Homo sapiens: one gene and its partner. The protein of the gene in region 1 purifies or fractionates together with the protein of each later gene. This does not show direct contact. Each region holds a gene or a part of one and is shown on either strand. Other genes may lie near its edges.

Region 1 (3,824 bases):
GTTATTGACATATCACTAAAGGCAGAGTTGGAGAGAGATGTGCAAAGATGGCTCCCAACTAGAAGATACCACTTTCTGTAATCAACTTTTTATAATGAAGTTTAAAAATATTAAGCCCTGATACATTATAGGGTAAAAGGAAATATTCATATAAATTAATTTAAAAATCAAAATACAAGGCTGGGCACAGTGGCTCACACCTGTAATCCCAACACATTCTGGGAGACCAAGGAGTGAGGATTGCTTGAGGCCAGAAATTTGAGAACAGCCTGGGCAACACAGTGAGACTCTGTCTCTACAAATAATAAAAAATTTAGCCAGACAAGGTGGCACACACCTGTAGTCCCAGCTCTCAGGAGGCTGAGGCAGGAAGACAGCTTGAGCCCAGGAGTTAGAAGCTGCAGTGAACCATTATCAGACCACTGCACTCCAGCCTGGCCAGCAGAACAAGACTCTGACTCTTAAAATAATAAAACTACAAAGCTTATGTTTACTCTAGCTGGCCTCTTATCTACCACCACCATCCCACCTCAGCCCAGTTTGAAATGCAATTCCACAGTAAGTAATCCCTCACGTTAAGCTTCATCTTAGCTTTATTCCTTTGTATCTGAGAAGCATTTTTTAACTTTCCATATATTATTCAAAATGGGTGACCAAATGAACCATCTATACAATCTTTGCTCAATTAAAAATATCATTTCTACTTTCTTCATTGTGCTTGGTTTGGATATTCCAAACAATCAATTTAACATTATCCTAGCTACTTACAAGCTTATACTTTAAAGAATCATACTGAGGTGCTTTTTCATATCAAATTTACCTGTTTATTCATTCCATAGCAAGCAGGATATTCACTATTTAAAACAAATTTAAGCAGATTTCTGTTAGATTTCTTTAAATCACTGAAAAGTAACACAAAAATACATATAGGTAGTAACTAAGTACTGACAAAGTATTCTACCTATGCAATATCCTATTAAATGTCTAAATTACCATATGTAAATTTAATTGTATTATTTACTCAATGGGGAAAATCTGGATTACAGAACTGAGGAAAATTATGTTTTATGTAAATTATAAAAGGCCAAAGTCAATCATGTTGAATAAAATAATTTTGAAATATAAGCCAGTAATATACCATATGAGTATCCCAAGAGAAACCCTGGATAGAAAGAAACTTTTAAAGTCACTCTTTTTTTTTTTATTAGTAATGTTAATGTTTGAGCTCAGTGTTTGAGCATGCTGGTTTTACCTATTTATGCTAATTTTAAACCAACAATTGAAGTGAGAAAATAATCATTTATCCTTGAAAGTATCTTTAGCATGGTCTTCCTAATTAAAAATACCACTTAAAAAAGTGAGGCAGCAAAAGCATGAACTGGAGTCAGTGGTCTGTCTGGGTTAAAATTGGCCCCACGATTTACTACCTATGACTTCAAGCAAGTTGCTTAACCTCGCACTTCATCCCACTTCATTATCTCATTTGTGAAATAGAGGTAAATAATTAACCCTGTACTCACAGGGAATACCGAGATTATGCATGTAAAGTGCTTACAGTGCCTAGCACATAGTAAGTGCCTAATAAATGTTAGCCATAAATATTATTGTGGGTATAGAAAATCAAATTCCCTAGTTGCAAAATGTATGCACTAAATGCTGAATATCAAAGAAGTCAAAATTCAACCACACAAGTCTTAACAGTTATAGAGTCTTTGCATGGACACAGTTTCGAAGCTAAAAAATGAGAACCTAATATTACATGCAAGTTATGTGACTCATCAGTAAATTCTTCCTAGAAAAACAAACTATACCACTTGTCAGATTCTTCCAGCATAAGCCTGAGTCCCCTTGCACCTATAATTAGATTCTTATTTTACTATCTTTTGCGTATCTTGTATTAATTTTACTTGGTTGATAAGATGTTGAAGAAACCATGGAATTATACACAGCACTATACATTATTACTATAGAATGTCTGGTCCCTCCCATCATAAATATGGTTTAATGAAGTTATTGAAAAACTTCACAATATCGAGCTGCAATTCTTTTTTCTTTTTATACAAATACAAGTTAATTAGCTCTATTAAGTTGCAATTTTATTTTTATAAAGCTTTGTAAAGTTATGAACATGGAAACCCTAAGAATCACCTAAGCTTTTTACATAAGTAAATTTCAAGTTGACAGTCTGTCCATTTTGAACTATTTATAATTAACAGGACACTTAACACAGTAATATCTTAGACAAGGAAGAGGGCATTAATTCTGCAGGCAGGTAGCAATGAAAATGCCAAACCTGAACAATCAGTCACTATTTCCTTATACAGTTTGAGTAAAAGAGGTAGACTACAGAAAGAAAAAAAAAAGTGAATATAAAATGTATCTTCCCCAAATACAACTCTACTTCAATAAGTCTTGAAGATTACCGATGACATCAACAAAAATGAATGAACTCAGGGAATGAGTTCTTTCTCCCCATCAAAGAAAAAAACAGCATGTGTAATTTTAAATTTGAAAAAAAAAAAGAATGGCAATTTGCAAGCAAAAGAAAACCAGATTCACATTCTACTATTTACATTTGTTCTATTCACAGGTCAAAAATAAAATATTTCATTAGATAATTTAAAAAAAAAACACTTTTTTAAAACAAATGTATTTTACTCCATCAATACTGCAAGGAAGATAACTGAATTTAGAAATGCTCTCTCTCTACAGCAAAGTTAACTTAACTTTTCGGGGCCCAACTGGCCTATCATTTAGATCTTTAATAGCAGCCATAGCTTCATTATAGTTTATCATAGCAACAATGGCTTCCCCTGTAGGTAAGCCTTGCTCATTATACTGTATCGAAACTGAATCAGGTATGATTCTGTAACCATGGAAAAAGTCTAAAATTTCATTCACATTAGCTTTAAATGGAAGATTCATTATCTTAATAGGAGTTACTCTACCTGAACCACAATTTATTTTTGGATCAGGCATAAATCTCCCCTCAGGAAAACTTCCCATATTATGCTTTCCAAAATCAAACTTGCCACCTTCTGGGCGACCAAAATTCACAAAAGGGCGGTGACTTCTAAAATCATCAGGCGGGCTCCTAAAATCCTCACCAGGAGGTCTAAAATTGTCAGGAAGTCTAGGGTCCTCCTCCGGAGCTTCCCTAAGGTCTTCCTCTGGGAGCTGCCTGAAGTCCTCATCAGAAGGGCATCTAAAATCTTCCTCCTGGGGGCTCCTGAAGTCCTCATCAGGAGGGTGCCTAAAGTCTTCATCAGGAGGGCCCCTGAAGTCTTCATCTGGTGGGTGCCTGAAATCTTCCTCTCGGGAGCGCCTGAAATGCTCCTGAGGCGGCCGCCTGAAATGCTCCTGGGGCGGTCTCCGGAAGTGCTCCGGGGGCGGGCGCCTGAAATGCTCTGGGGGTGGCCGCCTGAAGTGCTCTGGGGGTGGCCGCCGGAAGTGCTCTGGGGGAGGCCGCCTAAAATGCTCTGGAGGTGGTCTCCGGAAATGCTCTGGGGGTGGCCGACGGAAATGCTCCTGAGGTGGCCTCCGGAAATGCTCCTGGGGTGACTGCCTGAAGTCCTCCTCAGGGGAATGCCTGAAATCCTCCTCTGGGGGCCGCCTGAAGTCATCCTCGGGTGGTCGCCTCCATTCTCCCTGAAGAGGCCGCCTAAAGTCCTCCTCTGGGGGCCGTCTCCAGTCCTCCTCAGGTGGCCGCCTGAAATCTTCCTCTGGGAGCCACCTTAAGTCCTCCTCAGGGGGTTGCCTGAAGTCCTCCTCGGGGAGCTGCCTGAAGTCCTCCGTGGGAGACCGCCTGAAATCCTCCTCCAGTG
Region 2 (3,824 bases), on another chromosome or scaffold:
TTGCCTCTCTCTCGGTCATCTTTACGCTCCTGATTGCTATCAGAGTCTGGTTCTGGTTCAGGCACAACAAGGGCTTTTCGTTCTGTGAGTAGGTCTCCCAAGCCCTGCTCCAGATCATAACGTTTAAGGATGATACGGATGTTTTCATCAAACTGGAGAAGGGTAGGTACAATTATGAAGAAACAAAGGACACAACTTTGGAAATGAAGAGAACAGTAAGGAGAACTAAATTGGTCAAATAAAAATCTGAACAAATAAACAAGTTAGCTACCTGACTCCAGTATCGGTTGACAATCAATAGTGAGGCATCATCAGTGGCCTGTCGTCGTTCCAGTTTTTCAATGTGCTCACGAAGTTCATCTTCAATGGCCTGCCGCTGATCCAACATTTCTGCCAGCTTGCGATTTTTGGTTTGCAGTGTTCTAATGTCTAGTTCCTCCTGCCCAGTAAACCAATCGTATTAGTCTCCACAAAGAAATAAGAAAAATGAGCCGTTAAACTCAACAAGGTCACAATTATTCATTAGTTATTTTCTATGAATAAAGCTATTGACTTTTAAAAAATCTTACAAGTAATTAAGAAGTAGAAGCAGAAGAGATAAACAACAGGTATATGATGGTGTGAGGAAAGAATAATACACACAAATACACCAGAACCTCAACCCATCTCGCTGTTCTAGTCACATAAACATCTACAAAGTAATGCTGCTTTAAGGCCACCATCCAGCTAGATCACCCTCGACTCCAATCAACACTGTCTTCTATCTCGTAAGCACCATCCTTCCTTCATTAAAGACTTCAGCACCTGGGTCCCTGTCTATCCCAGTTCCTGCCAATATATCTGGTGACTTCACCATACATGTGGACAAACCATCTAATCCTCTAGCATCTAGGCTGTCAGTTTTTCCAGTTCCTTCACTCCAAACATTATCTCCTCCACTGTGCTTCAGCCATGCACTTCAAAAGACACATCTCAGACTTTTGTCATTATCTGGAACTGTACCACATCTGAAATCTTATATTCCAACTTCCCATTCCCTGAAAAACACCACGTCTTTCCAGGTATCTCATGCCCTTAACCCAATATACCAATCCCTTTACCTCATCAAGATCTCCAGAATGTTGAATTCTTTTCTTTCTCCTTTTCGGTCTCCTTCTATCTCTGCTACCTTCCATATCTTAATCATATGCTATATAGTACATTCCTTCAAACACCTGCCTAACAGCCTCCTTGGTTCTCTGCCCTTAATCCTTTTATTCTATCTCTGTCAACAAACCCCAATCTGAATTAATCCAGTTATCTGGCTATTCCATTCCTGTACCCAGTATGCTGAGACTTCTAGAGAAGTTCATCAAACCACCGAAACCGGTGCCTTTACAAAATGAATTCTTAGCCTAAACAGATTTTATAATTTGTCTAGAAATATTTCTTTATCAAGTGAGCTATTTCCCATTCTCCAGCAAGGCAACATCAACCTCTACCAAACCCTGCCCCCTTTTACATCATACAAAACAGATGGCTTTACTTCCTATTTTAATGAGAAAATAGAAGCCATCAGATGGAAAACAATTCCCCATCTCTTTGACCCATTAACACAATTATGCACACATTCTTAAAACCTCAGCTTGTGCTCAGGATCCTGTTCTCTTCTGTCTCTACAAAACCCTCACTCCATTAGTAATTTCACATCCCTCTCAATATTTTTCTCTCTCCAGCTCCTTCCCTAGGACAAACCAGGGAGGGGTTGGTGGGAGGTGGGATTGGAGGATATAACAAGCAAAGAACCAGCATGTGGAAAAATAGTCTTACTTTTCTGAGGAATTAATGAAATCATTATTTTAAAGTGACAATTGTTTATTACACCACCAATTTTTGTTTCATTTTTCTCTTTTCCACTTTAATTAAAACATTCCTAATATGCCAAAGTAGTCAACAGTTTTCCCACTGTACCAGTTTATTAACACTATTAATAAACTATATCCTCAAACTCTTCTCTGAACATTGCCTTTCCCTTCTTGCTCTAACTGAAACTTGGATGAGAAACTGTTTCCCTGCAGGCTTCTCTAGTGGTGGCTGTTTCTCTTCCACACCCCTTGAAGCCAGAGAGGGATGAATATCCTCCTTATTTTCCATTGCCACTTCCAGGCCATTACCCCACCTTCCTCCCTAAAACCTCCTACCTCTGCAGCTCATGCCATTAGCCTATACCACCTGCCGCCATGCTCTGTTGAATTCATCTGTAAATGCCCACGTCGTTTCCTCACATTTCACAAAGACTTAGCACCTACCTTATTATCACTCTCCAATACTTTTCCTGTCATCATTCTTAATGATTTCAATACCCATACAGATAACCTTTCCTATACTTGAATCATCAAGTCACTGACCTCCTCTTCACCAATGATCTTGTCTTCTACCTCCTTCAGCCACCAACTCCCACATTTAGTCTTACTTGTACCTACATGTCCTCTATAAGCTCAATTTCAAACACCTCATTCTTCACAACTACCACTATTTTTCCAGCTCACTCTCTCCAGTTTCCTTACTCCAAAAATTCTTTAACCTCTCCAGGATCTACAATCCATTGGTCCTATACCTTTCACTTCTCTCACCTCCTTCTTTACTGAACTTAAATTCCATGATCAGTCATTATATAGTCATCTACTTTACAGCGATACTCCTTTATAAAGCATTGTCTCTACTCTCTTTTTCCTAATTCCTCTCCCCTCATATTCTCTTAAGCTCACTGAAAACAGGGTGCCATCCCCACTATTTCACCAACAAAGGTGTTTTGGTATCTCCAGTGAACTATTATTAAATATAACACCTCAGTCCTCCCTTTATTCCCCTTGTTCCAACTGAAACCTGAATGAGAACACATCAGCAGCACCTAATCAGCTCCTTCTTGAAATACTTTCTTCATTGAGCTTCTGGGAACCCATTCTCTCTTCCTATCCTCTTACCTCATTGGTCCCTCTTTGTTTGTATCTTTGATTAGTCCTTTCTCATTCCTTGACATGAAAATATTGTAGTGCCCCAGCAGACCTCTTTATGCTTATTCATTAAAGGAGTCTGTAGTCTCATAGATGTAAACACAACTTACAAAATGACGATTCCCAAATATACAGCTTTAGCCCAGACCTCTCTCTAGTATCCAGCTTATTAACTACCTATCCATTCAGAGGTCAAATAAGTATCTCAAACTTATATGTCCCAAACCAAACCAAACTCAATTCATCCTCCATGACTCCCAAAAATCTGCTCCTCTCATACACTTCTCTAGCTCAGTAAGTAAAAATTCCATTACTTTCAAAATCCTGGGATGATCCTCCCTCCTATCTTTCATGTGAGTTATCCAATCCATCAGCAGATCTTATCAATGCTACCTCCACAGTGGTCCAAGCCACCATGATTTCTCATTAAGATTACTGCAAAGGCCTCCTATAGCAAAAACTCTGTGCTAAGTCCTGTCAGCCTGCCAGATTTCAGCACAGCTGTGGTGGACAGCTCCATTTACACTGCCATTGTTCCCACTTCAAGCACACTTTGGAGACTCAGTTTTTCTGTCCCGCAATCACAGCTGGCTCCTAACAGCAATCTCAAAATGCACAGGAGGGACTGCTTTCAATGGCAACCTTCAACCAATTGGAGCGGGGATCAGTGGATACATGCCTCAGATCCCCACCTTTGGAGAGATGCAGTTATAGCGAAAGAGAGTAAGAAGAAGAAAAGAAAAAAGTCTGCTAGCTGGACTCTTGTTTATAATCCTTGCTTTTCTATAGTCTCCAAACACAAGTCAGAGCATGTTAGTCTCCTACTTAAGA

What was found.
Region 2: the proteins of RBM12B (region 1) and RNF20 purify together in Homo sapiens (affinity purification with mass spectrometry; one large-scale study listed by BioGRID and IntAct). This does not show direct contact.

What each region holds. Positions count from the first base shown.
Region 1 is NC_000008.11:93,730,699-93,734,522, forward strand, and holds part of RBM12B (RNA-binding protein 12B), read right to left. Parts: coding exon 2,707-3,824; 3' UTR 1-2,706.
Region 2 is NC_000009.12:101,536,818-101,540,641, reverse strand, and holds part of RNF20 (E3 ubiquitin-protein ligase BRE1A), read right to left. Parts: intron 440-3,824; coding exon 272-439; intron 153-271; coding exon 5-152; intron 1-4. UniProt on the Homo sapiens protein: Component of the RNF20/40 E3 ubiquitin-protein ligase complex that mediates monoubiquitination of 'Lys-120' of histone H2B (H2BK120ub1).